Homo sapiens: one gene and its partners. The protein of the gene in region 2 purifies or fractionates together with the protein of the main gene of each other region. This does not show direct contact. Each region holds a gene or a part of one and is shown on either strand. Other genes may lie near its edges. The genes, in order: PACS1, ATG4A, MTPAP, BTN1A1 and WDR37.

Region 1 (6,036 bases), on a different chromosome or scaffold from region 2:
CCCTCGACTGTCTTCCTTTCCCCACCTTTATTCTGGATAATATTGTTTTATATATATATCCCAGATAGGAATGATGAGAGTACATCTTTCTGTTTCGCTCAGCTTAAGGAACAGAGCATTATCGCTTCTGTTGAAGCTCTCAGGGTGCCCCTTCCTGACTGTCTCCCCTCTTCCTTCTACAAAGGTAAACACTATTTTGAATTGTGTTTATCATTTCCCTTGTTAGAAAAAAATTAGTTTTACTACATAATGCATCTCTATATATTTTATAGTTCTGAATGTTCTTGAAGTTTGTGTACATGGTGTCATCCTGTATGTGTTCTGTGACTTGATTGGTTTTTTTATTTTTTTTTAAATCAGCATTAGGTTTGTGAGAATCATCCATGTGGTATGGTAGCCATAGTTTAAATATTTTCATGATGGGTAGTATTCTGTTGTGTGAATGAATATACCGTAATTCTCTTGAATATGTAGGTTGTTTCCTGTTTAACACCCACAGTAATGCACACATTTCCCCCCAGGACTCCTAGTGCTCTTGTGCAGAAGTTTCTTTAGGTTGTATTCATATGGAGGGGTGGGATTGCCGCTCGCAGGGTATAGATCTGGGACTTCACTAGGCAAAAGTAGATTGTTTCCACAGGCTGCTTCCACTCTGTGTTTCCACATCACTTAACAGATTTACACATTGTTTTTTTTTTCTCTGTCCTTTCTCTAGGGAAATCAGGAGCCACATTAATTTAGTTTGCTGTGGCCAGATCCATAGCACAACACCAAGCTCAAGCGAGAGTTGAGTATGTGATGGTGTTCCTCTCTTGATCCTAAGCAGGCCTCTCTCTTTCTATACAGGCCCATCTATCGCTGAAGTATCCTAACCCACCTCTTTCACACATAGAAACACTGTGTTCCTTCCTACGTGGGTCCAGTCTTTCCCATTTCTCCTTCACTTTCATGCCTGTGTTTGGTGACGTTTGGGCAGCTGCCTTCTCCATCTCGTTAGGTTGAAAAGGCGCGAGCCTACTGGCAAGGAGCTGCAGCAGAGGGGCGTGAATGAAATCATTGACTGCTGTTGATGTTTGGTCTGCCCCTAGGTCTTTTGGTCACTGCAAAGTCCACGTAATAAATTATTAGCCTAAGAAACAGCCAGGCATCCTGATCAAATGTATAATTATTATGCTAACTTGCTGTGAGAGGCTTAGGCGGACTTATTTTTACATTCCGGGAGTGTGCAGTTACGTCACGTTTACTGACCAGTCCTTGAGCTTGTCCACTGTCCTGCTCCGACATTGTTTTTCATCCATCACCCTTGTACCTCCTCACTCCTTGTGGAACACATGTGCTCTTTGAGCATTTTGCAGGCCAGAATAACACTCTGTGGGGAGAAAATGGCCTGCCATTGGTCTTTCCAATTATTAGAGTCATCTGGTTAATTTGAGGTCTCCTGGGTGTCCTTGTTCATGTTGTTTAGAATATATAGGCAACATGCAGCACTCTGTGGAGGGATTAACATTCTTGTCTCATGTAACTCAAACGGGACACAAATATATGAGATACATGCCCCTTAGAAATGTAAACATGATTGTGGATCTAAGGTTAGGTGTGCATAAGAATGTCATGGGATTTGGTCTCTTAGGGCAGAGAAGAGGGGCTCGAACAGTACAGTGTTAGGAAGGTCCTGCTGCTTTTCTTGATGCCTGTCAAAATATAATTTTCTTTTGAAAAAAATACCGTTTCCTGTATTAGATATTTAAATAAAGAGCAGTGTAGTTGTTCTTCAGGTAGGTGTCTGCTCTTATTTAACATCTGTTAAATTCCCCCAGAATACATAGTACTTTTGAAAAACTTTATATAGGTGAATAGCTTACTCACAGCTGGTTTTAAAAGAATGAAATTGTTCTGTTGATCACATTTTTCACCAGCATTTTTTGTTTTTTTTCTTTAGATGGAGTCTTGCTCTGTCATCCAGGCTACAGTGTAGTGGCACAGTCATAGCTCACTGCAGCCTCCAACTCCTGGGCTCAGCAATCCTCCAGCCTCAGCCTCCCAAGTAGCTGGGACTATAGGCATGTGACATCACACCTGGCTTTTTTTTTTTTTTTTTTTTTTTTTTTAAAAACAGGGTCTCACTATGTTGCCCAGGCTGGTCTTGAACTCCTTGCTTCAAACTGTCCTCCTACCTCGGACTCCCAAAGTGCTGAGATTACAGGTGTGAGCCACTGTGCCCAGCCTTTTACCAGCATTTTTTTTAAAGACAAAATGATTAATATATGTCCATGATTAGAAATTTGAGCAGTATGGAAAGATGGAAAGCACAAAGGAAAAAGCCCCCAGTCCATCCCTCTTCTCACTTCCCAGAGGTAATCACTGTGAAATACAGTTGGCTTTTAAGATTCTGTTACAAAAAGGTAGTTTTGCTATAGTTCCTTTATCTTTTATGAAATTCAAGCTTTAGAAGTTAGCATTGTTTTCCCTTCATGCTAAGTAGTACTTCCTCTACTATGGTCCAGTATGGCATGGACCGTGGTGCAGGGTTATGGGGACCAGGTGGCATGCTGCTTGATGTTAAAGGAAGGGTGTTAGAGCCTCATTGTTGATCCCTTCCCTTCTGCCTTTGTATGGTGAGGTTTCCCTGATGTTCTTTTCTTTTTGTGTTGCTGTAAGTAGGAGAGGCAGAAAAATTACTAAATTTTACAAGCATTCAAAATTTCCTCAGTGGCATAAAAGTGATTATTAAGAGATGAAATGTGCTCTGCTGTATCATTCGCAAACCATATCCAAAGCCCATTTGCATACCCTTATGTGTATGTGAACTTAGGGTAGGAGTTGGCAGTTATCAGTCACTTTTCTCCTTAGGTCACATTTTTTTTAAGTGGGTGCTGAGGTCAAGCCTTAATGGACAAAAGCGTTGGAATCACAGAAGGTGGCCATAGCTGAGTTGGCATGACTGGTCTGCAGCAGAAGTGTTACTTTCATGAAAACGCTTGGGGGCATTTGCCCCTTTAACCACAGAAGCACTATACGAGCCAAGATATACTACTCTATCTTCTTACTATATACTAGGACAAACTCTTCCATGCATTAGTTTAATTTTATTAATTTTTTTTTGGTGTTTTTTTTTTTTTTTTTTTGAGATGGAGTCTCGCTCTGTCGCCCAGGCTGGAGTGCAGTGGTGCAATCTCGGCTCACTGCAAGCTCCGCCTCCCAGGTTCGCTCCATTCTCCTGCCTCAGCCTCCCGAGTAGCTGGGACTACAGGCGCCTGCCACCACACCTGGCTAATTTTTTGTATTTTTTTGTACAGATGGCGTTTCACTGTGTTAGCCAGGATGGTCTCGATCTCCTGAGCTTGTGATCTGCCCGCCTTGGCCTTCCAAAGTGCTGGGATTACAGGCGTGAGCCACCATGCCCAGCCTTTGTTTTGTTTTTTTGAGACACAGTCTTGCTTTTTTACTCAGGTTGGAGTGCAGTGGCACAATCACGGCTCATTGCAACCTAGACCTCCTGGGCTCAAGCATTCCTCTCACCTCAGCCTCCTGAGTAGCTGGGACCATAGGCACTTGCCACCATGCCAGGCTGATTTTAAGATTTTTTTGTAGAGATGGGGTCTTGCTGTGTTGCCCAGGCTGGTCTCGAACTCCTGGGCTCAAGTGATCCTCCCGCCTCAGTCTCTCGAAGTACTGGGATACAGGTGTGAACCACTGTGCCTGGCCCATGCCTTAGTTTTTTCATCTTTATGGGAATACTTTTACTTACCATCCATTCTTAGATGTGGATGAAATATATATAAAATTGGATCTATAGAAGCATGGGAGAAAGTATTTCTTAAATTATAGGTATAAAGTAAATGTAATTGATCAAATAAGAAAGACCTGATGAAATTTCTATTACTACCCTAGCATTAAAAGTCCTTTTTTTTTTTTTTTTTTTGAGACGGAGTCTCGCTCTGTCCCCCGGCTGGAATGCAGTGGCGCGATCTGGCTCACTGTAAGCTCTGCCTCCTGGGTTCACGCCATTCTCCTGCCTCAGCCTGCCAAGTAGCTAGGACTGCAGGTGCCCGCCACCACGCCCAGCTAATTTTTTATATTTTTAGTAGAGACGGGGTTTTACCATGTTAGCCAGGATGCTCTCGATCTCCTGACCTCGTGATCCACCTGCCTTGGCCTTCCAAAGTGCTGGGATTACAGACGTGAGCCACCGCGCTCAGCCACATTAAAAGTCTTAAAAGCATGTTTGTACCTTAGGAGATTTGAATTTCACATTGTGAGTGTTGTAATAGAATATCATCTCTATCAGGGTAATAGTATCCATCGTCCCTGTGGAAGCTCAGATTACATGAGTTAGAAAGATAATGACTTTCACAGAGTCCATTTTACATGTATTGATTTACAGATCTTTTGGACACCTTAGCGGTTATGTGATTTCTTTCTAAACTAGTTTTCCAATTTCTTAGCTAAGCCAGTAAGTTGTCACTGTTGTTGTAGGTGCTGGAATGAGGGCGGGTACGCCTCAGAAAATGTTAGAGCTGCGTCTTTTCACTACCTCAGTTCAGGAGGCTTGTCCAGTTTGGACTTGGACTTTTTTTTTTTTTGAGACAGGGTCTTGTTCTGTTGCCCAGGCTGGAGTGCAATGGTGCGATCTCGGCTCACTGCAACCTCCGCCTCCCAGGATTCTTGAGCCTCAGCCTCCCAGGTAGCTGGGACTATAGGCGCACGCCACCACACCCAGCACATTTTTGTATTTTTAGTAGAGACGGGGTTTCCCCATGTTGGCCAGGCTGGTTTCGAACTTCTGACCTCAAGTGATCCGGCGGCCTCGGCCTCCCAAAGTGCTGGGATTACAGATGTGAGCCACTGTGCCTGGACTGGCCTGGACTTGAAGGTGTTGATGTAGATGCCAGCATGCATCTACATGGTGGGTCCTCTGAAATTTGGTGTTGGCCTGGCTTGCACCCATGTTGTCACATTCCGGAAATTCCGTGGGAATCTAGCGTAGCTGTGGGAATGATTTGCCAACGTTGGTCTTCTTCCAGCACAGGGCTTGAGGTGATATTGAGGGCTCTTGAGGAAAGTCAGAGTTTGGAGTTGGACTTAGAACTTCTTTCAGAGGGCCATCAAGCAAGGTGGGCAGTCTCTTAGGTTGGCAAGCACTGACAGGGTCTTCTTTGTGGACCTAGATAGAGGAATAACCAGCTTCCAAAGGTTTTAGAGACCAAGATATGCACCAGCTCTAGAGTGTTACCCCTTATAGATGTTCACAGGGCAGTCAGCTGGACCTGTGTTCCCCGTTATCTCATTAAAAACCAGAGAATGGCTTTGGTCACAACTCAGGGATCGCCACTTAGGCAGACCTGCACCCTGCCTCTTGACCTTGGGAATCGCAGTAGAACAGACAGCTAACCAATGAAACACATCTAGAAAACTTCTAGAAAATAGTTTATTAAAACATTCCAAGGCTGGGCGTGGTGGCTCATGCCTATCATCCCAGCACTTTGGGAGGCTGAGGCGGAAGGGTCACTTGAGCCCAGGAGTTTGAGACCAGCCTAGACAACATGGCAACCCCTCTCCACAAAAAATAAACAAAATTAGCCAGGTGTGGTGGCGTGCGCCTGTGGTCCCAGCTACTCAGGAGGCTGAGGTGGGAAGAGCACTTGAGCTCTGGAGGTCGAGGCTTCAGTGAGCCATGATCTCGCCCCTGTACTCTAGCCTGGGCAACAGAGTAAGACCCTGTCTCAAACAAAAATGGGTGAATAGAGAATGTTCTAAGTCATTACTTTCCTTGTGTTGAGGTAGATGGTGAGGCATAGGTGATAAAATAGTGTTGATGGCAGGTTTGTTTATTTAATTTTGTGCAGATCCTTTTAAATTGTAAGTTTGTTTTTTTTTTTTTTTTGAGACGGAGTTTTGCTCTTGTCACCTAGGCTGGAGTGTAAAGGCGCAGTCTCGGCTCACGGAAACCTCCGCCTCCGAGGTTCAAGCAATTCTCCTGCCTCAGCCTCCCGAGTAGCTGGGATTCCAGGCATGCACCACCATGCATGGATAATT
Region 2 (6,036 bases):
GCTGCTGGTCCACAGACCACACTTTGCATACCCAGGGCCTAAACACCTGGTTAGTGTTGAAGAGCATAAGTTAGAGAGTGATGTGGCCAGGAAAAGTTGGTACAGGACACCTGTTGCAGGGGTGGAATGGTCTGAGACTTGGCCTCAGGAAAGTTATGAGGTCAGATTGGTTGACAGACAAAGGAGAGCTACAGGAGTTACAAGGGAATGGCATGAGGGCACGTGCAAAGGACAGGGTGGAGATGGCCTTAGTTATCCTCCCCAACACATCTCCTCTTGGACATTCAGGGAGGTGAGGTGGGATGGGAACAGACACACGTGGCTTTGCATGCCAATCCCCCACTTGCTAGCTGTGTGACTTCAGGAAAAAGATATCAATATTCAGTCTCAGGTTCCTTTTATGTAAAATAGGGCTAATGCCTGACTCGCCCTGTTGTCATCTTACAGTAAAGTGTTCATCAAAGAGCCAGGCATATAGGACAGTCACTGAAAGGTGGCTGCACCTTGCTTTACCCCAATACCTATTTCCTTTGCCAGCCCCTTCTTCCTCTCTTTAGGTTGGGGGGTGTGGAGCGGGGCGTGGGGATTGCACAGCTGCCTCTGCTCTCTCTAATGCTGCCATCTATTGGTTGAGCCCAAGAATTACAGCTAAATGGAAAACGTGGAGCCTGTAAAGGCTTTTATTTTTCTAAGTATAAAACCTAGTGTTTGGAGTTCTGCAAAATCAGATGCCCTCTGTTCCTAAGCATTTGGGTTCAAAGAAAATGTTGCAAAAAATAGATTTCCAGTTGCTCATGCATGACTTAGTCTCTTCAGGCGGCTATAACAGAATAGTATAGACTAGGTGGCTTTATAAACAACAGAAATTTATGTCTCACTGTTCTGGAGGCTGGAGGTCCAAGATCCAGGCACTGGCAGATTTGGTGTCTGGTGAGAGCCCACTTCCAGGTTCATAGATGGCTGTTTTCTTGCTGCGTCCTCAAATGGTAGAAGAGGCAAAGGAGCTTTCTGGAGTCTCTTTTATGAGGGCACTAATACATTCATAGGGGCTCCACCCTCATGACTAAATCACCTCCCAAAGACCCCACTTCCTAATACCATCATACTGGGGGTTAGGATTTCAACATATGAATTTTAGGGAGACATAAACATTCAGTCCACAACAGTGTTTGAGGACAGCTTTGAAACAGATTAGAAAATAACTTTGGAGGAATCTCAGTGAATAGTGTGTGTGATTCCTGGGTGCCCTGGCCTCCCTATCCCAAGTTACCTACAGAGAATTTCTCCAAGTTGATGTAGCCCTCCTGTTTCTTGAGGCCACTGGGTCAGAGTAGCTTTTGTGAAGTTTGACTACTCATTAAAAAGATGTGGGCAATCCTCAGTTCTTTAATACCCCAAGACAGAGGTTCACATAGTGCCCATTTGCCTGTTAACTTTTATAAGTCCTTTGTGCAAACTTCACTTGAGGGCTTTAAGTCCCTCTGACTCCCCTTTTCTGACTCACACCCTTACTGTTTGAGGTTGAGTGGTCCAGATTGGCAGAATGTCTGAAGGGAGGGAAGAGATGCAAATTGCCATTTTCTAAATAGTTGTCCTGTTCCAGAGACTTCGCAAAGTATATTATCTCTCTGTCTACACATATATACACACACACACACACACATTTATACATATATATACATATATATACATTATATATATAAAATATATATATAAAATGTATTACATATACGTACATATACATATACAAAGTATTATATACATTTTACAAATATATAAAATGTATAAATGTATATATAAAATACATTGTATATATAAATAAATGTATATATAAAATACATTGTATATATAAATGTATATATAAAATAATATATAAATATATAACATAAATGTATATATAAAATATATATAAAATGTATTACATATACATACACAAAGTATTACATATACATTTTATATATATAATGTATTACATATACAAATACATACACAAAGTATTACATGTACATATACATATATACATATATATACATATATATACACATATATACATATATACACATATATACACATATATATACGTATATATATACATATATATACGTATATATACACATATATATACATATATACATATATATACATATATACGTGTATATATATACATATATATATATATATATATATATATATATATATATATCACTAAGGAATGGTGCCATATTGAGGGCTCAGTGTTGGTCTGTGCTGCTGGCAAATTGGGCACTCAGCAGGGGCTGTAGCCAGGTCAGCCTTGGTGAGTGGAAGTCCATGTTGCTGAACCCATGTGTAACCTCTATCCCTGCCACCATGGCCACTTTGTTCATGGGCCCATTGGGTGATGACACGGGTGGCTGAGGAAAAAGGCTGAGTGGTGTCCACAGAATGGGTCATCCTATCTACTTGATTATTAATCAAGAATACACACAATATTTCTGTGAGGTAGAGACTGTTATTTCTGTTTTACATGCAGTGAAACTAAGAGCTAAAATTAAGAGAGATTAAAAAGTTATTTCTTCAAGGTGATTCTGTTAGAAAGTGGTGAAGCCAAGAGTCGATCCCAATTTGATCATCTCTACCTACCACCTTCCATTGCTCCCCCAGGGCCCTCCTGCCCAGTGGGAAGCTGAGAGAGCTCTAGGTGTGGGAGGATATGGCCAGGATGACACTCTGGCCTTCAAATTTTGCCTGCTTAGAGAGAAGGAGATGTTGGTTCCTTGCACTTGGGTATAGGTTTCCACCTGGAGATCCATAGCATTAGCCCTGTCTCTGCAGGTGGTTGGTCAGCCTGCCTTTTCACTCCAGGTCTCACTGGAGACCTTTGTTTAGTCCCCAGATCATTTCTAGAGCTTTTTACATCTATTGTATATCTTTTTTTAAAAAATTTTGTTCCAGATTCAGGAGGTACATGTGTTTGTTTGTTACATGGCTATTACATGTGTAATGGTGTGGATTGGGCTTCTAGTATACCTGTCGCCCAAATATTGAGCATTGTACCCCAATGGATGATGATTAGATAAATAAAATGTGTTATATACACCATGGAATACTATGTGGCCATAAAAAGTAATGAAATCATGTCCTCTGAAGCAACATGGATGGAGCTGGAGGCCATTATCCTAAGTGTACTATATCTCTTATAAGCACTCTCAGAAATGATGCAGCTTGTGGCAGCTTGTGGCCAGGCGCAGTGGCTCACACTTGTAATCCCAGCACTTTAGGAGGCCAAGGCAGGTGGATCGCCTGAGCTCAGGAGTTCGAGACCAGCCTGGGCAACATGGTGAAATGCCGTCTATACCAAAAATACAAAAAATTCGCTGGATGTGGTGGCGCATGCCTATAGACCCAGCTACTTGGAAGGCTGGGATGGGGATCGCTTCCAAGCAGATCGCTTGAGCCCAGGAGGTCAAGGCTGCAGTGAGCCAAGATTGTGCCACTGCACTCCAGCCTGGGAGACAGATTGTATTAGTCAGGGTTCTCTAGAGGGCCAGAACTAATGGAATATATATACATATATATGTGTGAATATATATATGTGTGTGTGTGTATATAACATACATACACACACACACACACACATATATATGTAAAGGGGAGTTTATTAAGTATTAACTCACATGATCACAAAGTCCCACAATAGGCCATCTGCAGGCTGAGGAGCAAGGAGAGCCAGTCTGAGTTCCAAAACTGAAGAACTTGGAGTCTGATGTTTGAGGGCAGGAAGCATCCAGCATGGAGAAAGATGTAGGCTGGGAGGCTAGGCCCATCTCTCTTTTTCACATTTTTCTGCCTGCCACCCTGGCAGCTGGTTAGATTGTGCCCACCTGATTAAGAGTGGGTCTGCCTTTCCCAGCCCACTGATTCAAATATTAATCTGCTTTGGCAACACCCTCACAGGCACACCCAGGATCAGTACTTTGTCTCCTTCAATCCAATCAAGTTGACACTCAGTATTAGCCATCACAAGTCCACCCCTTGTCAACTTGAACCCATATACATATCCTGAGATCATACATCATCTTCAGATAAAGACAATAATAAGGTCATAATTTGCCTAACATAATACAACTATCCTTCGTACAACTGGAAACGCACCAATCCCCAACCCAAATACTATTACATGAACTTAATAATACTTAAATGCTGATGTGAAGTCAATAAATCTTATGTCACATGATAAAGGAGAAAGGAAATAAAATGAGAATATTTTCTTAGTACAAGTGTATACATGCACAAACATATTTTTAACAAAAGAAGGAGGAAATGTTCATGACAATTGCAGTCCTCGTTTCTGTAGCTGGTCACGTGGTCGTAGCTAGTATTGATGACTACCTACTTTTACTACCTATTCTGTATTCCCTTTGCCGTCAGTAAACACTTCAGCAGGTCATGTTTTTTTTCCTGGTGGAGTGACCCAAACCTTCATTCCTGAAGGGTCTGGGCCGTTTGTAGTCCTGCCTGGATTGGGCTGTTGTAGTTTCCCATTGACCTTAATCACAGGGCATGGTAATACTAAGAGACACCCAAATGGATCTCCTGTATTCCATGCATACTTTTTCTTACCTCCATTGTGGGGTAGTAGACTGATTTCATCTTGATAGTCCAAGTCAGTCACCCCAACCAACACTGTAACTCCCTTATTAGCCTGTTGATGTAAAGGGAAGAGGAGCCCAAAGTGTCCAGGTGGCAATCTTAACTTCCAGTTTAATGGAACTGTTGTGTCTCCTGATGGCAGCATTCCTTCCTCTGGAACTAAGAACTCTAGGCCAGCAGAACGTAATGTCGGGGGAACAGGAAGCAAAAATTTTGCTGGTGGATCACTGGGGCTGATGGTGAGTGGTGCCACTTCCACTTCCACTCCTTGATTCCTGGACCTGTGAATCCTGGCTATGAGAGAAAGAGTACCATATATTGAATGCTAATTCAGAGCTTACACAGCCTTCTGGAAAACTTTGCCCCAGCCCTACAAAGTATTGTCACCTAGTTGGCATTGTAATTGTAACTTCAAAATGAAATTCCACCATTCTATCAATCCAGCTGCTTCAGGCTGATGGGGAACATGGTAAGACCAGTGAATTCCATGAGAATGAGCTCACTGCCACACTTTCTTAGCCATAAAGTGAGTGCCTTGGTCAGAGTCTGTGTGGGATACCATGATGTTGGATAAGGCTGATGGGGAACATGGTAAGACCAGTGAATTCCATGAGAATGAGCCCACTGCCACACTTTCTTAGCCATAAAGTGAGTGCCTTGGTCAGAGCTGTGTGGAATACCATGAAGGTGGATAAGGCATTCTGTGAGTCCATGGATGGGAGTCTTGGCAGAAGCATTGCATACAGGATAGGTAAACCCATATGTGGACTAAGTGTTTATTCCAGTGAGGATAAATCTCTGCCCTTTCCGTGATGGAAGAAGCCCAGTATAATCAACCTGCCACCAGGTAGCTGGCTGATCACCCTGAGGAATGGTGCTATATTGAGGGCTCAGTGTTGGTCTCTGCTGCTGGCAAATTGGGCACTCAGCAGGGGCTGTAGCCAGGTCAGCCTTGGTGAGTGGAAGTCCATGTTGCTGAACCCGTGTGTAACCTCCATCCCTGCCACCATGGCCACTTTGTTCATGGGCCCATTGGGTGATGACATGGGTGGCTGGGGAAAGAGGCTGAGTGGTATCCACAGAATGGGTCATCCTATCTACTTGATTATTAAAATTCTCCTCTCCTGAGGTCACCCATTGGTGAGTACTCACATGGCATACAAATATCTTCACAGTTTTTGACCACTCAGAGAGGTCCATCCACATACCTCTTCCCCAAATTTGGCACCAATTTCCCAATCATGCTTCTTCCAAGTCCCTGACCATCCAGTCAAACCATTGACTATAGTCTATGAATTAGTATATAATCGCACATATGGCCGTTTCTCCTTCCATGCAAAGTGCACAACCAGGTGCACTGCTCGAAGTTATGCCCACTGGAAAGATTTCCCTTCAATGGGTCAG
Region 3 (6,036 bases), on a different chromosome or scaffold from region 2:
GCCAGTGGGAGGGGATCTTTGTTTTGCCTTTGGATTTTTCTGCTTCATCATTCTTTTCAGTCTTTTCAGCTTCTCTTAACTAACATTGTTTTAAGGTTCCGTTTCTTTTTTTTTGACATGGAGTCTCACTCTGTTGCCCAGGCTGGAGTGCAGTGGCATGATCTTGGGTCATTGCAACCTCCGTCTCTTGGGTTCAAGCGATTCTCCTGCCTCAGCCTTCCAAGTAGCTGGACTTACAGACACCTGCCACCACGCCTGGCTAATTTTTGTATTTTTAGTAGAGGCGAGGTTTCACCATGTTGGCCAGGCTGGTCTTGAACTCTTGACCTCAGGTGATCTGCCCACCTCCATGTCCCAAAGTGCTGGGATTACAAGCGTGAGCCACTGCGCCCGGCCCAGTGTTCCTTTTCTTCATCTACTTAAATTGAATAAAATTAATGCTATGTTAGAATCATATCATTTGTAAATTTTAAAGACTTGATATTTTGTAGCATTATGATAATTGTTTTAATATATGAGCTAAAATAGTATGTTAGATATATCGTGAAATGTGTTCTGTTTTTTCTTATGTTTTTGGTATAGGGTCTCTATGCTGTCGTAGAATTTTGCCAAAAGGAAAGCATAGGTTCACTGCAGAATGGGACTCATACTCCAAGCACGGCCATGGAGACTGCAATTCCATTCAGATCACGTTTCTTCAATCTGAAGTTGAAAAACCAGACTTCTGAACGGTCACGCGTACGGTCAAGTAATCAGTTGCCACGTTCAAACAAGCAGCTTTTTGAATTACTTTGTTATGCAGAAAGTGTAAGTTTTTAGGTGTACCTCAACTTTTAGAACTATGTATTTTTTTATGAACAATAAAGATTCCTGTAAAATGTTCAAGCTACATTATTGTTTAATGGGTATAGATCTTCAGTTTTACAAGGTGAAAAGAGTTACGGAGATGAATCGTGGTGGTGGATGCATAATGAGATGAAGGAAAGTTTTTTTCTATTTCTAGCTTTCTAAGAATGTCGTCATGCTCAACACATTGAGTAGATGTTGAGTTTTGACATTTGAGATGGTATTGATGACTGGCATATGGTCTTGAGATTGTATATGGTTCCTAATGTCTTTTTCTTTCCCCTCCTAATGTCTTAACGTAGTGAATTGTAGATTCACTGTAGATTTCCTCATGTCAAGTCATTCTTGCATTCACAGAATAAACCCTACTTAGTCAAGGTGTATTTACAAAAATGCATTATTACATTTGTCGTGCTAATATTTTTATTACAATTTTAATATCTCTATAAATAAATGGGATTGCTTTTAAAAATTCAAACTACAGGATATGTTGAATGAAAAGTGATAGTAATCCTTGTCTGCTCCTTCCCCGCCATGCCCCATTTGTACTTACAGGTAACCACATTCTTCTGAAGTTTTCGGCCTTTTGAACAGTTTAGGTTTTCTTTCTCTTTCCAGCATAATGACATAAAATTGTACATGGTTTTCTGTCAATTTTAAAATGTCTTCTTTCTGATTCTCTCTCTCTTTTTTTTTTTTTTTTTTTGAGATGGAGTCTCGCTCTTGCCCAGGCTGGAGTGCAGTGGCATGATCTTGGCTTACTGCAACTGCTCCCCGATTCAAGCAATTCTCATGCCTCAGCTGCCCAAGTAGCTGGGACTACAGGTGTGCACCACCACACCCAGCTAACTTTTGTATTTTTAGTAGTGACGGAGTTTCGCCACTTTGGCCAGGCTGGTCTCGAACTCCTGACCTCAGGTGATGTGCCCACTTCGGCCTCCCAAACTGCTGGGATTATAGGTGTGAGCCACTACGCCCGGCCCAAGATTCTGTCTCTTCTGTGTTCAAATATTGTTTGTATTTGTCTTGGTGTTTTTTTGTTTGTTTGTTTTTGTTTTTGTTTTGAGACGGACTCTTGCTCTGTCGCCCAGGCTGGAGTGCAGTGGCGTGATCTCAGCTCACTTCAAGCTCCACCTCCTGGGTTCACGCCATTCTCTTGCCTCAGCCTCTCAAGTAGCTGGGACTACAGGCGCCCACCACCATGCCCGGCTAATTTTTTGTATTTTTATTAGAGACGGGGTTTCACTGAGTTAGCCAGGATGGTCTCGATCTCCTGACCTTGTGATCCGCCCGCCTTGGCCTCCCAAAGTGCTGGGATTATAGGCGTGAGCCACTGCACCTGGCCTGTCTTGGTGTTTCTTACTCAGACTTGCCAGACCTTGCTAGTCTTTCCAAAGAATCAACTCATGGCTTTATTTATCAAAATATTATTTTCAAGGTTTAATTTTCTAATAAGAAAATTTTTGCTTCTAATCTATTTCCTTTACTTTTATTGTTATTATTATTATTTTGAGACAGAGTTTTGCTCTTGTTGCCCAGGCTGGAGTGCAATGGCCTGATCGTGGCTCACTGCAACCTCCGCCTCCCAGGTTCAAGCGATTCTCCTGCCTCAGCCTCCCAAGTAGCAGGGATTACAGGCACGCGCCATCACACCTGGCTAATTTTTTGTATTTTTAGTAGATTTGGGGTTTCACCACGTTGGCCAGGCTGGTCTCTAACTCCTGATCTCATGTGATCTGCCTGCCTTGGCCTCCCAAAGTGCTGGGATTACAGGCATGAGCCACCGAGCCCGGCCTCTTTTATTATTTTTGAGTTGAATGCTTAGTTCAGTTCAGTTCAGTTATGTTACGTTATGTTATGTTATGTTAATGTTATGTTGTTATGTTAATGTTATGTTGTTATGTTATGTTATGTTACGTTATTTTTTGAGGTGGAGTCTTGCTCTGTTGCCCAGGCTGGAGTGCAGTGGTGCAATCTCAGCTCACTGTAGCTGCATACTCCTGGACTCAAGTGACCCACCTCAGCCTTCTGAGTAGCTGAGACTACAGATGCATTCCACCATGCCCAGCTAGTTTTTGTATTTTTTTTTTTGGTAGAGTCAGGGTTTCATCACGTTGCCCAGGCTGGTCTCACTCCTGAGCTCAAGCGATCCTCCCGCCTTGGCCTCCCAGTAGTTCACAGGTGTGAGCCACTGTGCCCAGCCAGTTGATATTTTCAATGTTGGTTTCAAATAAGAGCATTTGAAGTTACGATTTTTTTTCACTTCAGATACTCCAGTACACAATTTCAGTATGTGATCATTTTAATGCCAGTCTTCTAGTGGATAGACAGGATTGTTATTCTGAGAAACTGAGAGGTCTTGGGCCTTCATTACTTGAGTATTTCTAGTTTTTCTTGCCCTTTAACATTGGTCTTTCATCCCTTTGAGTTTAAAATGTCTAACGTGGTTGTTTTAACCTCTTCTGGAGTACTTTACTACTTTCATTTTCTTAAAACAATACTTTATACTCATCGCTTACAAAGTTTTAATTCTAGCCAACTTTCATTTTGCTAGTGGCATTCCTCAGAGCTTTTTAAAAATTTTAAAATATTATATAATTTATTTCTTTAGTGAAATAGAGACGAGGTCCTGCTGTGTTGCTTAGGCTGATCTCAAACTCCTTGCCTCATATGATCCGCCTTGGCCTTCCAAAGTATTGAGATTACAGGCATGAGCCACCGCGCCTGGCCTTCTCAGTGGTTTTTAAAGAGTATTTTTTTTTGAGACGGAGTCTTGTTCTTGTTGCCCAGGCTGGAGTGCAATGGTGCGATCTTGGCTCACCACAACCTCTGCCTCCTGGGTTCAAGCGATTCTCCTGCCTCAGCCTCCTGAGTAGCTGGGATTACAGGTATGCGCCACCACGCCCGGCTTATTTTGTATTTTTAGTAGAGATTGGGTTTCTCCATGTTGGTCAGGCTGGTCGCGAAATTCCGGCCTCAGGTGATCCACCTGCCTTGGCCTCCCAAAATGTTGGGATTACAGGCGTGAGCCACTGCGCCAGGCTTTGCATATTTCTAAGGTAGGTCTTCAACGCCACCAAATCTTTGAAAGTAAAATGGTAACTTTTTATGCGACCTGTACTTTTTCTCTATTTTGTTGGTTTTGTTTCGGCTAGCTAGATAGACGATCAGCTGAACACTCTCTTGAAGGAGTTCCAGCTAACAGAGGAGAACACTAAGCTCCGATATCTCACCTGTTCTCTTATTGAAGACATGGCCGCCGCGTATTTTCCAGACTGCATAGTCAGACCCTTTGGCTCCTCAGTCAACACTTTTGGGAAGTTAGGATGTGATTTGGACATGTTTTTGGATCTAGATGAAACCAGAAACCTCAGCGCTCACAAGGTAAGTCTATTTCTTTTGACCACTATAATCATGTAAAGTTAAGAAAGTATAAAAAGAAAAATCTTTGAACTTAATAAAATAGAACTGTTGATTTCTAAACTTATTAAACATTGTGGTTAAAGAATAAGGTGTATTTGTTATTGATTCTTTGGTGAAGTCTTTCTTTGTATTGTTCTACTATGTGATCATTTTTGTGAATATTCTGTAGATATGCAATCAAATAGTTAATTGTTTTCAAGTGTTCAGAAATTTTTCAGTTAAGTCAAAGTTACCTATTGTGTTATTCAAATTATGTATCTTAACTAATTTTTTCTTTTTAATCTTGTGATCTAGTTACTGAGATGTTTTTACATCTCATGATTCTTGGTTTTGTTAATTTCTCTTTAAAATTCTTTTGATTTTTGTTTTATCCAAAGGCTATATTAGCTACATATAGGTATACGATCATCATATTTCCTTATTAGATTGTTTTATTATTATATCCCTCATACATGCTTTATTCATCTCTATAAATACTTTTTTCTTAAGTTCTATTTTATTTGTTAATATGGCCGCTTGGTAGTTGTCTCACATGTCTTCTGTTTCTTTATTTTCAGCCTTTATATATGTTATTTTAGTTTGGGTGTATCTCTTATAAATAGCAGTATGCTTTTACTCCAGTCTATCAGTCTTTGAGTTCAATATGTTTATTGTTACTGCTGATAATTCTTGGACTAATTTCTCCTGTTTTATTTTTTATTTCCTATTTTCTGTGCTTTTGCTTTTCACTTTCTTTTATTTATTTATTTTTTTTGAGGCTGAGTCTCACTCTGTCGCCCAGCCTGGAGTGCAATGGTGCAATCTCGGCTCACTGCAACCTCCACCTCCCGGGTTCAAGTGATTTCTCCTGCCTCAGCCTCCTGAGTAGCTGGGATTACAGGCGCCTGCTACCATGCCCAGCTGATTTTTGTATTTTAGTAGAGACGGGGTTTTACCTCCTTGGTCAGGCTGGTTTTGAACTCCTGACCTCAGGTGATCCACACCCCTCGGCCTCCTAAAGTGCTGGGATTACAGGCATGGGCCACTTCCCAGCAGCTTTTCACTTTCTTTCTTCCTTTTATTGGATTACTCCTGCTTTATTCCTGCACTTTCCTCCTTACCCTTTTTTTCTCTTTCAAGTTTGGATATTATTTCTTCCATTTATGTTCTCTTTAACACGATGTCTAATGGTAAAATTAACCAGTGTCTCTTCCATCCTCCCAAACAATATAAATGATGTCTTAATTTAATTACAGTGTTGAAAAGGCTATTTATTTTTATTTTTATTTTTTTGTTGGAGATAGAGTCTCTTGCTCTGTTGCCTAGGCTGAAGTACGGTGACGTGATCTAGGCTCACAGCAACTTCCGCCTTCCAAGTTCAAACAATTCTCCTGTCTCAGCCTCCCAAGTAGCTGGGACTGCAGGCAGGGGCCACCATGCCCGGCTAATTTTTTTGTTTTAGTAGAGACAGGGTTTCACGTATTGGTCAGGCTGGTCTTGAACTCCTGACCTCAGGTGATCCATCCACCTCAGCCTCCCAAAAGTGCTGGGATTACAGGCGTGAGTCACCACACGCGGCCAAGGCTATGTGTTTTTATAAAATGTTTAGTTTCTATGGCTGTATCTTTCCTTACATCTTTCAAACTAGTAGTGAACATCAGACTTTATGTGGATGTCCAGTTGATATTTCAAACAATATTTTGAGACAACTTATATTCATCTTCCCACAAATGTTCTTTCTAAGTTCTTACAAAAGTTCTATATGTTTCACATGTTAATTAGTGGCAT
Region 4 (6,036 bases), on a different chromosome or scaffold from region 2:
TCTTTTCCAGTGACTTAAGGGAACCCCACCAACTTTATTAGAAGAGTTAAGATACTGAAGACATAAACCTACCTTGATCTCAAATAAATTTCAGATTATTTATCTATTTATTTTTTGAGACAGTGTCTCACTCTGTTGCCTAGACTGGAGTGCAGCAGCAGAATGATCTCAGCTCACTGCAAGCTCCGCTTCCCAGGTTCAAGCGATTCTCCTGCCTCAGCCTCCAGAATAGCTGGGACGACAAGTGCACACCACCGTGCCCAACTAATTTTGTGTATTTTTAGCGAAGGCAGGGTTTCACCATGTTCCCCAGGCTGGTCTTGAACTTCTGGCCTCAAGCAATCCACCTGCCTCGGCCTCCCAAAGTGCTGGGATTATAGGTGTGAGCCATCACACCCAGTGAAATTCCAGATTTTCCATTTCAGGAGATCTAAGTGAGATAGAGAAGCTTTGTCCCTGGAGGCCTTCCTGATCCAGAGCCTTCTCTCCTCAAGTAAACAAAAAGACTAAGTTGGCCGGGCGTGGTGGCTCACGCCTGTAATCCCAGCACTTTGTGAGGCCGAGACAGGCAGATCACAAGGTCAGGAGATCGAGACCATACTGGCCAACATGGTGAAACCCCGCCTCTACTAAAAATACAAAAAAATTAGCCAGGCATGGTGGCGGGTGCCTGTAGTCCCAGCTACTTGGGAGGCTGAAGCAGGAGAATGGTGTGAACCCGGGAGGCAGAGCTTGCAGTGAGCTGAGATTGCGCCACTGAACTCCACTCCAGCCTGGGTGACAGAGCGAGACTGCATCTCAAAAAAAAAAAAAAAGACTAAGTTATTTTTCTACTTTTGCCATTTCCACCCATACTCACTTCTCCTTCCTATCCCATGCTAGGGCTCTGTCTAGGTTTCCAGGGTCCTCAGGGAAGAAAATCCTCTCATTATTCCCCAGATACTGTCTCTGGTTCAGGCAGAAACCTTTCCTTATTCTTTGGTCAATGAGTCCCATTCTGTTACATACAGAGGCACACTTCCCCTTCCTTATTTACCTCCTTCATCCTCTTGGCTCCCATTCTGCACTGATAGTTAAGGAAGAATTTCCATAATGACATGAATTGGTCCATTATATTTATTATTTCACAGGTCCTGTCCCAAAATTACTCGTCATTTCTCTCTTTCTCTGCTGACTCCTGCTTGAAGTCAATTTTTTTCTGAAAAGTTTAGAGTGGCATTGGAGTGACTATTTTTTTGCTATATGAGGGATGAGAGTGGTCCAGGCCATCACCTCTTCTACCCTCCTTTGGAATGTGGAGAAAAGCTGGACTTGCTCAGAATTTCTCAACTAATGTCCTTCTTGGGGATTTTGTTTTAGCTTCCTCCCTCCCAAGGCTGACTCCCTGGATAGTGGCTGTGGCTGTCATCCTGATGGTTCTAGGACTTCTCACCATTGGGTCCATATTTTTCACTTGGAGACTATACAACGAAAGACCCAGAGAGAGGAGGAATGAATTCAGCTCTAAAGGTAAACCATAGAATCCACAAGGGCTACGTGTCAGGAGTGCTTCAGAGGCAGGCTGGATCCAAGTCCTTTAGAATGACTTATTTTAGGATGACAGGAAGATATTTGAGGCTGGGCATGGTGGCTCACGCCTGTAATCCCAGCGGTTTGGGAAGCCGAGGTAGGTGGATCATCTGAGGTCAGGAGTTCGAGATCAGCCCGGCCAACATGGCAAAACTCCATCTCGACTAAAAATACAAAAATTAGCCAGGCTTATTGGTGAGTGCCTGTAATCCCAGCTACTCGGGAGGCTGAGGCAGGAGAATTGCTTGAACCCAGGAGGTGGAGGTTGCAGTAAGCCGAGATCGTGCCATTGCACTCTAGCCTGAGCGACAGAATAAGACTCCGTCTCAAAAAAAGTAGAAGATACTTGATTCTAGAATTCTGAAAATTGGAGGAAATCATAAGGGTCCTGAAGTCACAGATGCCAATATGAAGAAGCACAGAGGATTGGGGCATAGGCAGAGTCTAATCAAGATATCAGGGCTGATGTTTACTCACTACCCACCCTCAGACCCTACTCCCACTTTTAACTCAATTGCCCAGTACCAATCTTATTATTAAAGATCTGAGGCCGGGCGCAGTGGCTCATGCCCGTAGTAATCTTAGCACTTTGGGAGGCCGAGATGGGTGGAACACATGAGGCCAGGAGTTCAAGACCAGACTGGACAACATGGTGAAACCCCGTCTCTAATGAAAATACAAAATTTAGCCAGGGTCGTGGCCCACACCTGTAGTCCCATCTACTCGGGAGGCTGAGGCGGGAGAATGGCTTGAACCTGGGAGATGGAGGTTACAGTGAGCAGAGATTGCACCACTGCACTCCAGACTGGGCAACAGAATGAGATTCTATAAAAAAAAAATCTGATCCCAAGCCAGTTCCAATATGTAGGAACTTCCTGCATCTTTCTTCGAAAACAAAGCAAAACAAAATCCTTGTTCTTGATTTATTGGCAATGCTTCAATATTCAAATAGTCATGAATTAAACAGTTCCTCCTTTGTGTGTTTCCCACACGAGTTTTGTCCCCTCCTTTACGTCCACTATAGAAAGCCATTGAGGTATTTTTGTTTGTTTTCCAGAGAGACTCCTGGAAGAACTCAGTAAGTTCTGTCTTCTTGTTATTTCACCCACAGAGTTTTCTCTCTCTTATTATATAACCTGTCAATGACTATCTTTCTCTTTTGTTGCAGAATGGAAAAAGGCTACCTTGCATGCAGGTCAGTGGCTCTGAACTTCTCTAGGGCTCTGAGGCTCTATCCCCTAGGAATTCAAAGTGCTATGATACTTGGAAATGAAAACACTAACACTTTAGTGATGAGGACAGGAAGGGAAACGGTGATGACAGATGGCCTCAACAGTTTCTGTGAGGCACATAGAGAACCCTTGGAAGATGGCACTTCCGACAGAGTCCCATTAGGCCCTAGGCACAGTTAGCTCTTACATCACCCTCTGGCTGCTGGTAAGGGGGGATCCTGTGGTGAATGGAGACCCCTGAGCAGGCCAAACATCCCCCCACCTCCAGAAGACCTGTCAACTCCTACAACAGTGTTCTGTTTCTTAGGAGAAGGAAAGACAGTCCTGCAACCTGTAATATTCACTGATGTCAGACCTGCTGTTTCTTTCTCTCCAGTTGATGTGACTCTGGACCCAGACACAGCTCATCCCCACCTCTTTCTTTATGAGGATTCAAAATCTGTTCGACTGGAAGATTCACGTCAGAAACTGCCTGAGAAAACAGAGAGATTTGACTCCTGGCCCTGTGTGTTGGGCCGTGAGACCTTCACCTCAGGAAGGCATTACTGGGAGGTGGAGGTGGGAGACAGGACTGACTGGGCAATCGGCGTGTGTAGGGAGAATGTGATGAAGAAAGGATTTGACCCCATGACTCCTGAGAATGGGTTCTGGGCTGTAGAGTTGTATGGAAATGGGTACTGGGCCCTCACTCCTCTCCGGACCCCTCTCCCATTGGCAGGGCCCCCACGCCGGGTTGGGATTTTCCTAGACTATGAATCAGGAGACATCTCCTTCTACAACATGAATGATGGATCTGATATCTATACTTTCTCCAATGTCACTTTCTCTGGCCCCCTCCGGCCCTTCTTTTGCCTATGGTCTAGCGGTAAAAAGCCCCTGACCATCTGCCCAATTGCTGATGGGCCTGAGAGGGTCACAGTCATTGCTAATGCCCAGGACCTTTCTAAGGAGATCCCATTGTCCCCCATGGGGGAGGACTCTGCCCCTAGGGATGCAGACACTCTCCATTCTAAGCTAATCCCTACCCAACCCAGCCAAGGGGCACCTTAAGGAATATCTCAGCTCATCTGTTTTCCTTTCCTCTAACCCCTCTCCTCCATAGCCTTCTGAGGCTTCACCTGCTAGCTTTACCCAGTCTGTTTCTTCCTGTTGGGTGGCAATTAATTAATCCTGTGAAGGTTACATTGCTGCTGCTAGAGAGGGTGGGGATTGCACCTTCCAAATCTGTTTCTGTACCAATATTTGGGGGATGGAGGGGTGACTCAAACTGCTTCTAGTGTTCTCCTAATCCCTTAAGACTAGAACCTATAGGAAACTACTTGGAGCAAACTCAAAGGACAGATTAGGGATCGAGATTGGGTCAGGTTAGCATGGGGTTGTGGTTGAAATATCTTGGTATCCAGGATAAGGGTATGTGGAAAAACAGGCTTTAGGCAAGTGGAAAATTCAAAATGTGCTGTGAAAGGACAATCTCAGGCTGAAATCCCATAAAGGAACTTGGAGGGAATATTATGATGGAGGGAAGTGAGGTGAATCCAGGCACATGATGAACACCTGGCTCATCCATAGAGTTTTCACAGCCTATATCGCAAATTTTCTAAGCCACGTCCTATAGGACAGAGGAGACTGGCCCCACTTCTATGGGTCTGAGCTGTGGAAAAGGGAGAGCAGAGAGGAACTGAGATGAGCAGGGATGAAGGGTCAGGCAGAAAGCGTGATAGAGGAGAGAATTTTTGACAAAACTCAAAAGTTGTTTGCACAGCTGTTCTTTGTACCCTGTTCCTTTCTCTGCGCCCTCCTGTTTCTCCCTTGCCTGGAAGTCATTCCACCCTCAATTTGTTGATCCACAAGTTTCCAGTTGTCCTCTTCTTTTTGTTATAGCATCTCTCTATTTCAAAGACATTCCTAGAAGTCATCCTTCAGTGATATCACCACTTGCTCAGTCACCATCTCAACCTTATGTCACCTCAGCCCTCATCTCAATGCCCAAACCCCTTACACACACCTTCAGTTAGCTTCAACTGCCTCCGTTTCCACACTGTGCACCTTTCACTTTCCCTACCCAGCTTTCCTACATGCTGCCTCTCCTCAGGGTCCCCTGAATGCTGCATCATTGTGTTCAGTGCAGCTGGACTGATTGCACCTGTGTATTTGCCCCTGAGCACTTTCCTTTACACATGTGGCTTGTCTTGCCAATAGACTCCAGGCTTATACCTTCCATTTCCATCGTATTCTCCAGTTTCCAGGATAGACGTTGCTCATCGTCTTTACCTAATAAATAAGTTTGTCTGATTGCTGAAAGCAACCTCTTAACCTTTCTTTTTTAATATCAACTGAAACAAAATAAAACATAGGGCAAGAAACCTGCATGGGAATGCAGCTGTCTAAAGCTTTGCCATTGTATGTGGTCTAAGACCCATCCCTAGGCCTGATGGCAGTGGGCTCACCAGGGCAGGTGCACATGGGGGCTGATGCCTCATGAGGGAACAACTGCTTACCAGGGTCTTCAAGCAGGAATACAGAATCTCAACTCAGGAACAATTTTTTATTAGTCCATCCTCATATTTCTGTAAAGAAATACCTGAGACTGGGTAATTTATAAAGATAAGAAGTTTAGGCCGGGCACGGTGGCTCATGCCTGTAATCCCAGCACTTTGGAAGGCCGAGGCGGGTGGATCACGAGGTCAGGAGTTTGAAACCAGCCTGACAAACATGGTGAAACCCCGTCTCTACTAAAAACACAAAAATTAGCCGGGTGTGGTGGCAGGCACCCGTAATCCCAGCTGCTCAGAAGGCTGAGGCAGGAGAATCACTTGAACCCGGGAGGCAGAGGTTGCAGTGAGCTGAGATCGCGCCACTGCACTCCAGCCTGGGTGACAGAGCAAGACTCCATTTAAAAAAAAAAAAAAAAAAAAGATAAGAAGTTTAATTGGCTCATAGTTATGTAGGCATGACAGCTTCTGCTCAGCTTCTGGGGAGGCCTCAGAAAATTTACAATCATGGCAGAAGGCGAAGGGGAAGCAGGCACATCTTACATGGCCATGGCAGAAGGAAGACAGCAGCAGGGACGGGGGAGGAGAGAGGGGGGAGCGGGGGATGTGCTACACACTCTTAAACAATCAGATGTCATAATTAGTCACTCATTCACTATCACAAAAATAGCATTGGCCGGGCATGGTGGCTCACGCCTGTAATCCCAGCACTTTAGAAGGCCGAGGCAGGCAGATCACCTGAG
Region 5 (6,574 bases), on a different chromosome or scaffold from region 2:
GATTTTTTTTTTTTTTTGAGTCAGGGTCTTGCTTTGCTGCCCATGCTGAAGTGCAGTGGCGTGATCACAGCTCACTGCAGCCTCGAACTCCTAGGCTCAAGCAATCCTCCTGCTTCAGTCTCCCAAGTAGCTGGGACTACAGGCATGAGCCACCACCATGCCTGGCCCCTAATTTCAGTATTGCTGTGTCTCAAGGATAGGGAGGTCTGAGCAGAAGGAGAGAGATAGGGAGGCAGCTGGTCAGTGCAGTGGTCAGAACACATAAAACATTTATCGACTCAGTTTGCTGTCTTATATAGGGGTGGTTCATGGTGCCCCCCAAGCAATTATGACAGTAATATCAAAGATCACTAATCACAGATCACTATAACTGATTTAATAACGGAAACATTCCAAGAATTACCAAAATGTGAGAGAGACATGAAGTGAGCACATACTGTTAGAAAGATGGTGCTGACAGACTTGCTCCATGCAGGGCTGCCACAAACCTCCACTTTGTAAGAAACATATGATACCTGTGAAGTGCAATAAAGTGATACACATGAAAACAGTTGTGCCTGTTACATGACATATATACACACATATATATAACTTGAGAATTTAGGAAGCGACATGTCAAACAGCTTATAACACTATAGTGTACTATCCAAGTGTTTGAGACACAGTTAAAATAATCAGTAATGAGGACAATGACAGAATACCTAGTAAATCTTAATTCCCTATCAAACCATGCGCAAAAATGAGTCTTAGTAAATTCAGCATTGTTGCCCTATGTCAGGGACAAAGTACATGTATTTTGCATAGATGGACATGTGACAAAATAGAAATTGGTTTTCTGAGACAGGATTCTCCACAGCTTCTGCAGGAGGGAGAATGTAACTGGATACCAGGATTGCAATCATAACCTTTTATAATTTCGGCTAGTTTTGTGTCTTTTAAAAAAATTACATTGGATAGTTATTTCAGGATACAGTGTGTTATGGGTTAAATTGTGTCCCCCTTTCAAATTCATGTGTTAAAGACCTCACTTCCAGTATTTTATAATGTGACCTTATTTGGAAACAGGGTTGTTGTGGATATGATTAGTTAACATGAGGTCATATTAAAGTAGCGTCTACTGTACTCCAATATGACTGATGTCCTCATAAAAAGAACGCTAAGTGTGCAGACAGACACGGACATGGAAAACGTCATGTGAAGACTGGCGGGGGCATGCTGCCACAAGCCAAGGAATGCCTAGACGCTGAGATGCATTAACAGGCTCCCATCACAGCTCTCAGAAGGAATCAACCCTGCCAATACCTTGATTTGGGACTTCCAGTCAGACCTCTGACAATAAATTTGTTTAAGCTGCCTAGTTTGCAGTATTTTGTTCCTGCAGCCCTAGCACATCAACAGTGAAAAGAATATGGATTCTGATGCCAGCCTTTAGTCTTTGCCCTGCTGCACGATTATTTTTGACTTTTGACGAGTAATTTCCACATTCTCATGCTTAAAATTCAATTTAGAATAACTTTTACTTTATTGGATTCCTTTGGGGATTAAATTAGTTACAAAAGATGTAAAGCGACTGATCCTCAAAATGATTTCTTTCCCTTGTTTTGTGACATGTCATGCTCTCAGTTATTTTCAGTGACTTTTATGGAATCCTAAATATATCAACTTAAAAAATTACATTAGCGATATTCTTGGTGTTACCTGACTGTGGTGCGGTCCAGAAAAATAAAACCACCTGTTAGAATGCGGGTTAATTAGATGGGACACTGCGATTTACAAAGCTTTCTATTTGCTGCCATGCCCAGTACAATGTCTTTGCATACTAGGTACTAAATAAAATTATGTTACTTAAATGTCACAACCTCTAAAAGTTTAAAAAATGACTTCTCTAAAAACTCAAATATTTTTTTCCTTGGCGTTCCTCTTACAGAATTGTTTTTAGTGATAAAGTTTTATTAATATACTTAATGCAGAAATAACTTCACTTCTTTTTTTTTTTTGGTAATCTGGATCCCCTAAATAGAATGCTAAATTTGTTTCTTGTGCAACAAACAAGTTACCACTTCTGACTCTTCATCTTGAGCTTCCTTATTTTTTTTTGGAGACGGAGGCTCGCTCTGTCCCAGGCTGGAGTGCAGAGGCGCGATCTCGGCTCACTGCAACCTCCGCCTCCCGGGTTCAAGCGATTCTCCTGCCTCAGCCTTCCGAGTAGCAGGGGTTACAGGCGCGCGCCGCCACGCCCGGCTAGTTTTTGTATTTTTAGTAAAGACAGGGTTTCACCATGTTGGCCAGGCTGGTCTCGACCTCCTAATCTCGTGATACGTCGGCCTCGGCCTCCCAAAGTGTTGGGATTACAGGCGTGAGCCACCGCGCCTGGCCTTGAGCTTCCTTTTTAAAGGAAGGAGCAGGAATGTTAACCTACACAGAAAAAAAAAATGCTTTCACGCTCTTGATTTACTCTAGGTGGGCTTCAAATGCGCGGTTAGCGCTTTCTGTAGAGCGTTGAGACGGCTGTTTACGTAAAGACCATCATGCGACGTTTCCAACCTAGATTCTAAGAAAAAAGCGGCCCAAGTCCCACCTTTCGCAGGGAACAGCTGATTCTGTTTTTCCTTCCCAGCCAATGGTGATCAAAAGCTTCAGGACGCTGGTGAGTCACTGCGGAGGAGCCGAACACTGACCGCGCCGTCCCCGCCAGGCTCCCGCGCGGCCGGCACCGCGGCCCTGAGCGCAGGCGGCCCCGGGTCTCAGGCCTCAGGCGGACCGCGCCCCGGGCTCGCAGCCCTCCCGCCCCGGCTGCCGGGCTACGGGGCAGATGGACTCGGAGCGCCCCGCCGGTGAGTAGCTACGACCCCCGAGGCCACCTCCCGCGAACCGCTCGGCGGCAGGAGTACGTGACCAAGGGTGGGGGCGTTGGCCCAGCAGCCGAAGGGGTCTTCAGCGCGCCCAGACCCCTCGGGGCTGCGGGGCGGAAGCCGGGGCGTGACTTCCGGCGCCGCCGGGTGTGGGGCGGAGGTGTGGGGCGGCTTCCGGAGAACCCAGCGGCGCGGGACTGGGGCGGGACTTCCGGCGACACCGGAAGTGCATTAGCGCCAGGTTGGGGTTGTGGGGTCGCGTCAGTGCGGAGACAGCGGTGTCCTGCGCGTCTTCGGGTCAGTACGGGGGGCCGCGTCGTAGGGACTCACTGGCGGTGCGCGACCTGGGCTGGCTCCGGGGGTGGCGGGCGCAGCTGCTGTGACAGGTGAGTGCCGCCATCTTCCTACCTGTCAGGCGCCGAGTCGTTCCCCGGATGCCCCGAAGAGGAGTCGGGACACTGCAGGGCTCAAGGGGGTGCAGGGGCAGTCGGGGCATAGTGGCGGATGGGGTGCAGGTGGGCTTGGAATGCAGAGGGTCCGTGGTGGTGCAGGAGGGGTCGGGTCCCTGGAGGACCCGTGGCGGTGCAGGAAGGGCCGTGGTGCAGAAGGGTTCAGGGTGCAAGAGAAGTCGGGGCGCAGGAGTAGTCCGTGGCGGTGCCAGAGGGACCAGGGTGCGGGAGGGATGGGGGCCCGGGGCGGTGCAGAAGATGTCGGAGTCCAGGAAGAGTCGGGGCGCTGGAGGGGTTGGGGGCAGAAGGGTTCGGCCCGGGGTCTCTCCCCGCCCCCTTTGCTTCGGCCTGGGCATCCCGGGGAAGTGCGTCTCCAGGGAAGCACTTGGGAGGCCCTTCAGAGAGGAGAATGGCCTTTCTTCTCTCCAAAGAGTGGGGATGGTCGGCTTCAAGAAGGGTGGTGAGTGTGGAGTGACGGATGCTGAAGTGATTAACACAGCGCCATGATATTGTTCCCCTTTTGAAGACTTCCTTTTCCTTCCCTTCCCCCTGAAAGCAGCCACCGCTGGAGGGAAACATTTTAAGACAGCTGTTCACCGGAATAACACAAGAGCAACAATAATAATGTACTCATTTACTAAACCAAGTTGAATAAATACATTTTTCCAGGTTGTGAGTGAAAATAGCTTAAGGTCTGCCAGGTTTTTAGAGATTTTGTCATTTAACTTAAACGCTAAAACATTCGTCCCTTGAAGCGGATACCATTATAGAAAAGTGTTAATTGCTTGGAAGTTTCATTTATTGAAGTTCAAGTGTTTTTCTCTTAAATTCAGTATGTTGGCCTGTGAGTTACGGTCATAAAAGTATTGCAGGAATTATTTACCTCTGAATGAGAAAGCTCAAGATAGTTATATCTCCAGGAACTTTCTTCGTCTTCTGAACTTCCCCCAACCCCAGCAGACACACACACTGTTCTGGTTACTTTCCTGATCAAATTCGAGTCTTTCAAAATAGCTTTTGATATGTCCCAGGAGTTAAACACGGTATGTAAATATGAACTCACCAATGTGGAACAAATGGAGTGATCTGTTATCCCCTGGGTTTAGACGCTGCCTTTCTATTAATACTGCTCACAGGAGACAGAGTAGGGACTCGTGTGCACTGGCCACGTCTCAACAGCAGTGTGACCTTGGGCAAGGCCTTCCTAAGTCCCGACTCCCTGTCCTCTAACATGGTGTTCATATCAGCCTCATTTTCTTACTGGGAAGGTTACGTTATGTAATATATGCCAGCCATTTTTGCAAAGTGCTGTATACAGGAGATCTTGAGTGAGTGTGTTTCCCTCCTCCTCTTTTTGGGTAGCTATGTTAGGCTGTTCACTTTGGGCATTTGCCCTGAACTAAAATCCCTAAGTCCCTTTCCCCAAGGTGAAACTAAGATAGAGTTTTCATATTTATCCTGTCTTATTCTTTTCAGGGAAAAGATTTTACATCTGTTGAATTTCATCCTTGGTTTAAAGTTGTTCTTTTAACTACTGAGATCTTTTGAAAATCTTGATGGCTATTTATCTGATTAATGGTATTTCCTAATTGATTGTCATCCACAGAATTGATGGTGTATGTATTCCATGCCTTCATTTCGTCAATGACAAAACATTTTAAGCAGGTTAATACTGATGACAGATTTCTGAGGTTGCCTGTAGAGACCATTCTCTTCCTCGATATTGCTCAGAAGTTGAATTTGGTGTCTCAGCCCACTAGGAATTCGTCTAACAGTGTTATTACGATAAAATGTTACTACAAACTTGATTAAACTTCTGGTGGAAATTCCATCACATTTTATGCAATTTTCAATTTATTTCTCCAATTTATTTTTAATGCCACATGGACATTATATTCCTTAACCATTCTTTTGCATGTGATTAACATTTGTGAAATTAACCACTTAAGCAAGTGTTTTTGCTTTGATGAAAGAAAAATGTTTAAAATCCTACTGGATATGAAACTGAAAGTAATGTTTTGTGTTTTTTGTTTCAAATGAAAGTGTAAATTAAGAATTTGTTGGCAGGGCGTGGTGGCTCATGCCTGTAATCCCAGCACTTTGGGAAGCCGAGGTGGGCAGATCACCTGAGGTCAGCAGTCCAAGACCACCCTGGCCAACATGGTGAAGTCCCGTCTCTACTAAAAATACAAAAATCAGCTGGGCATGGTGGCGGGCACTTGTAGTCCCAGCTACTCAGGAGGCTGAAGCAGGAGAATCACTTGAACTCAGGAGGCAGAAGTTGCGGTTAGCCGAGATCACGCCACTGCCCTCCAGCCTGGGGAGACAGAGCGAGATTCTGTGTCAAAAAGAAAAGAATTTGTCGTATTGCTGTTTCAAGCTACTTTGGTTATGTTATCTGCCTTCCTCAAATTATACACACTTAGGAGAATGATAATTTCTATAGCTACAAATTAATTAATATTGGAAATATTGAAAAGAATCTGGCCAGGCGCAGTGGCTCATGCCTGTAATCCCAGCACTTTGGGAGGCTGGGTCAGGTGAATCATGAGGTCAGGAGTTCAAGACCAGCCTGGCCAGGATGGTGAAACCCCGTATCTACTGAAAATACAAAAAATTAGCCAGGCGTGGTGGTGGGTGCTTGTAACCCCAACTACTCAGGAGGCTGAGGCAGAGAATTGGTTGAACCCGGGAGGTGGAGGTTGCAGTGGGTCGAGATCGCGCCACTGCACTCCAACCTGGGCGACAGAGCGAGACTCTGTCTCAAAAAATATATATATAAAAGAATCTTTTGAGAAAGAGCAGAAAGCTAAGTGTTCATTGATGCTGTTTAATATTACAGCATTTCTGTCACGCAGGCTGGAGTGCAGCGGCATGATCTCAGCTCACCACTGCCTCCACCTCCCAGGGTGGAGCAATTCTCGTGCCTCAGCCTCCAGGGTAGATGGGAGGCGTGTACCATCACGCCCAGCTGATTTTTGTATTTTAGTAGAGACGGGACTTCACCATGTTGGCCAGGCTGGTCTTAAACTCCTGACCTCAGGTGATCCGCCTGCCTGGGCCTCCCAAAAGGCTGGGATTACGGGCATGAGCCATCATGCCTGGCCCAATATTACAGCATTTCTAAAGATGAGGAATTCAGCTTGCTAACACAGTGTGTTTATGGGTTTCATTAATTAGTCGAATGTTTGGCCAGTGCCTGCTGTGTGTAGAGCACTGTGCTGCATCACAGCTGTGTGCCTGTTGTTCTGACTGCTTACAAGCAGTGGGGTG

Evidence for each region.
Region 1: the proteins of ATG4A (region 2) and PACS1 purify together in Homo sapiens (affinity purification with mass spectrometry; one large-scale study listed by BioGRID and IntAct). This does not show direct contact.
Region 3: the proteins of ATG4A (region 2) and MTPAP purify together in Homo sapiens (affinity purification with mass spectrometry; one large-scale study listed by BioGRID and IntAct). This does not show direct contact.
Region 4: the proteins of ATG4A (region 2) and BTN1A1 purify together in Homo sapiens (affinity purification with mass spectrometry; one large-scale study listed by BioGRID and IntAct). This does not show direct contact.
Region 5: the proteins of ATG4A (region 2) and WDR37 purify together in Homo sapiens (affinity purification with mass spectrometry; one large-scale study listed by BioGRID and IntAct). This does not show direct contact.

The regions. Positions count from the first base shown.
Region 1 is NC_000011.10:66,071,836-66,077,871, forward strand, and holds part of PACS1 (phosphofurin acidic cluster sorting protein 1), read left to right. Parts: intron 1-6,036. UniProt on the Homo sapiens protein: Coat protein that is involved in the localization of trans-Golgi network (TGN) membrane proteins that contain acidic cluster sorting motifs.
Region 2 is NC_000023.11:108,138,907-108,144,942, forward strand, and holds part of ATG4A (cysteine protease ATG4A), read left to right. Parts: intron 1-6,036. UniProt on the Homo sapiens protein: Cysteine protease that plays a key role in autophagy by mediating both proteolytic activation and delipidation of ATG8 family proteins.
Region 3 is NC_000010.11:30,334,997-30,341,032, reverse strand, and holds part of MTPAP (poly(A) RNA polymerase, mitochondrial precursor), read left to right. Parts: intron 1-582; coding exon 583-807; intron 808-4,005; coding exon 4,006-4,230; intron 4,231-6,036. UniProt on the Homo sapiens protein: Polymerase that creates the 3' poly(A) tail of mitochondrial transcripts. Can use all four nucleotides, but has higher activity with ATP and UTP (in vitro). Plays a role in replication-dependent histone mRNA degradation.
Region 4 is NC_000006.12:26,505,324-26,511,359, forward strand, and holds the end of BTN1A1 (butyrophilin subfamily 1 member A1 precursor), read left to right. Parts: intron 1-1,359; coding exon 1,360-1,509; intron 1,510-2,626; coding exon 2,627-2,647; intron 2,648-2,737; coding exon 2,738-2,764; intron 2,765-3,177; coding exon 3,178-3,851; 3' UTR 3,852-5,102; downstream 5,103-6,036. UniProt on the Homo sapiens protein: May function in the secretion of milk-fat droplets. May act as a specific membrane-associated receptor for the association of cytoplasmic droplets with the apical plasma membrane.
Region 5 is NC_000010.11:1,053,731-1,060,304, forward strand, and holds the start of WDR37 (WD repeat-containing protein 37), read left to right. Parts: upstream 1-2,654; 5' UTR 2,655-3,238; intron 3,239-6,574. UniProt on the Homo sapiens protein: Required for normal ER Ca2+ handling in lymphocytes. Together with PACS1, it plays an essential role in stabilizing peripheral lymphocyte populations.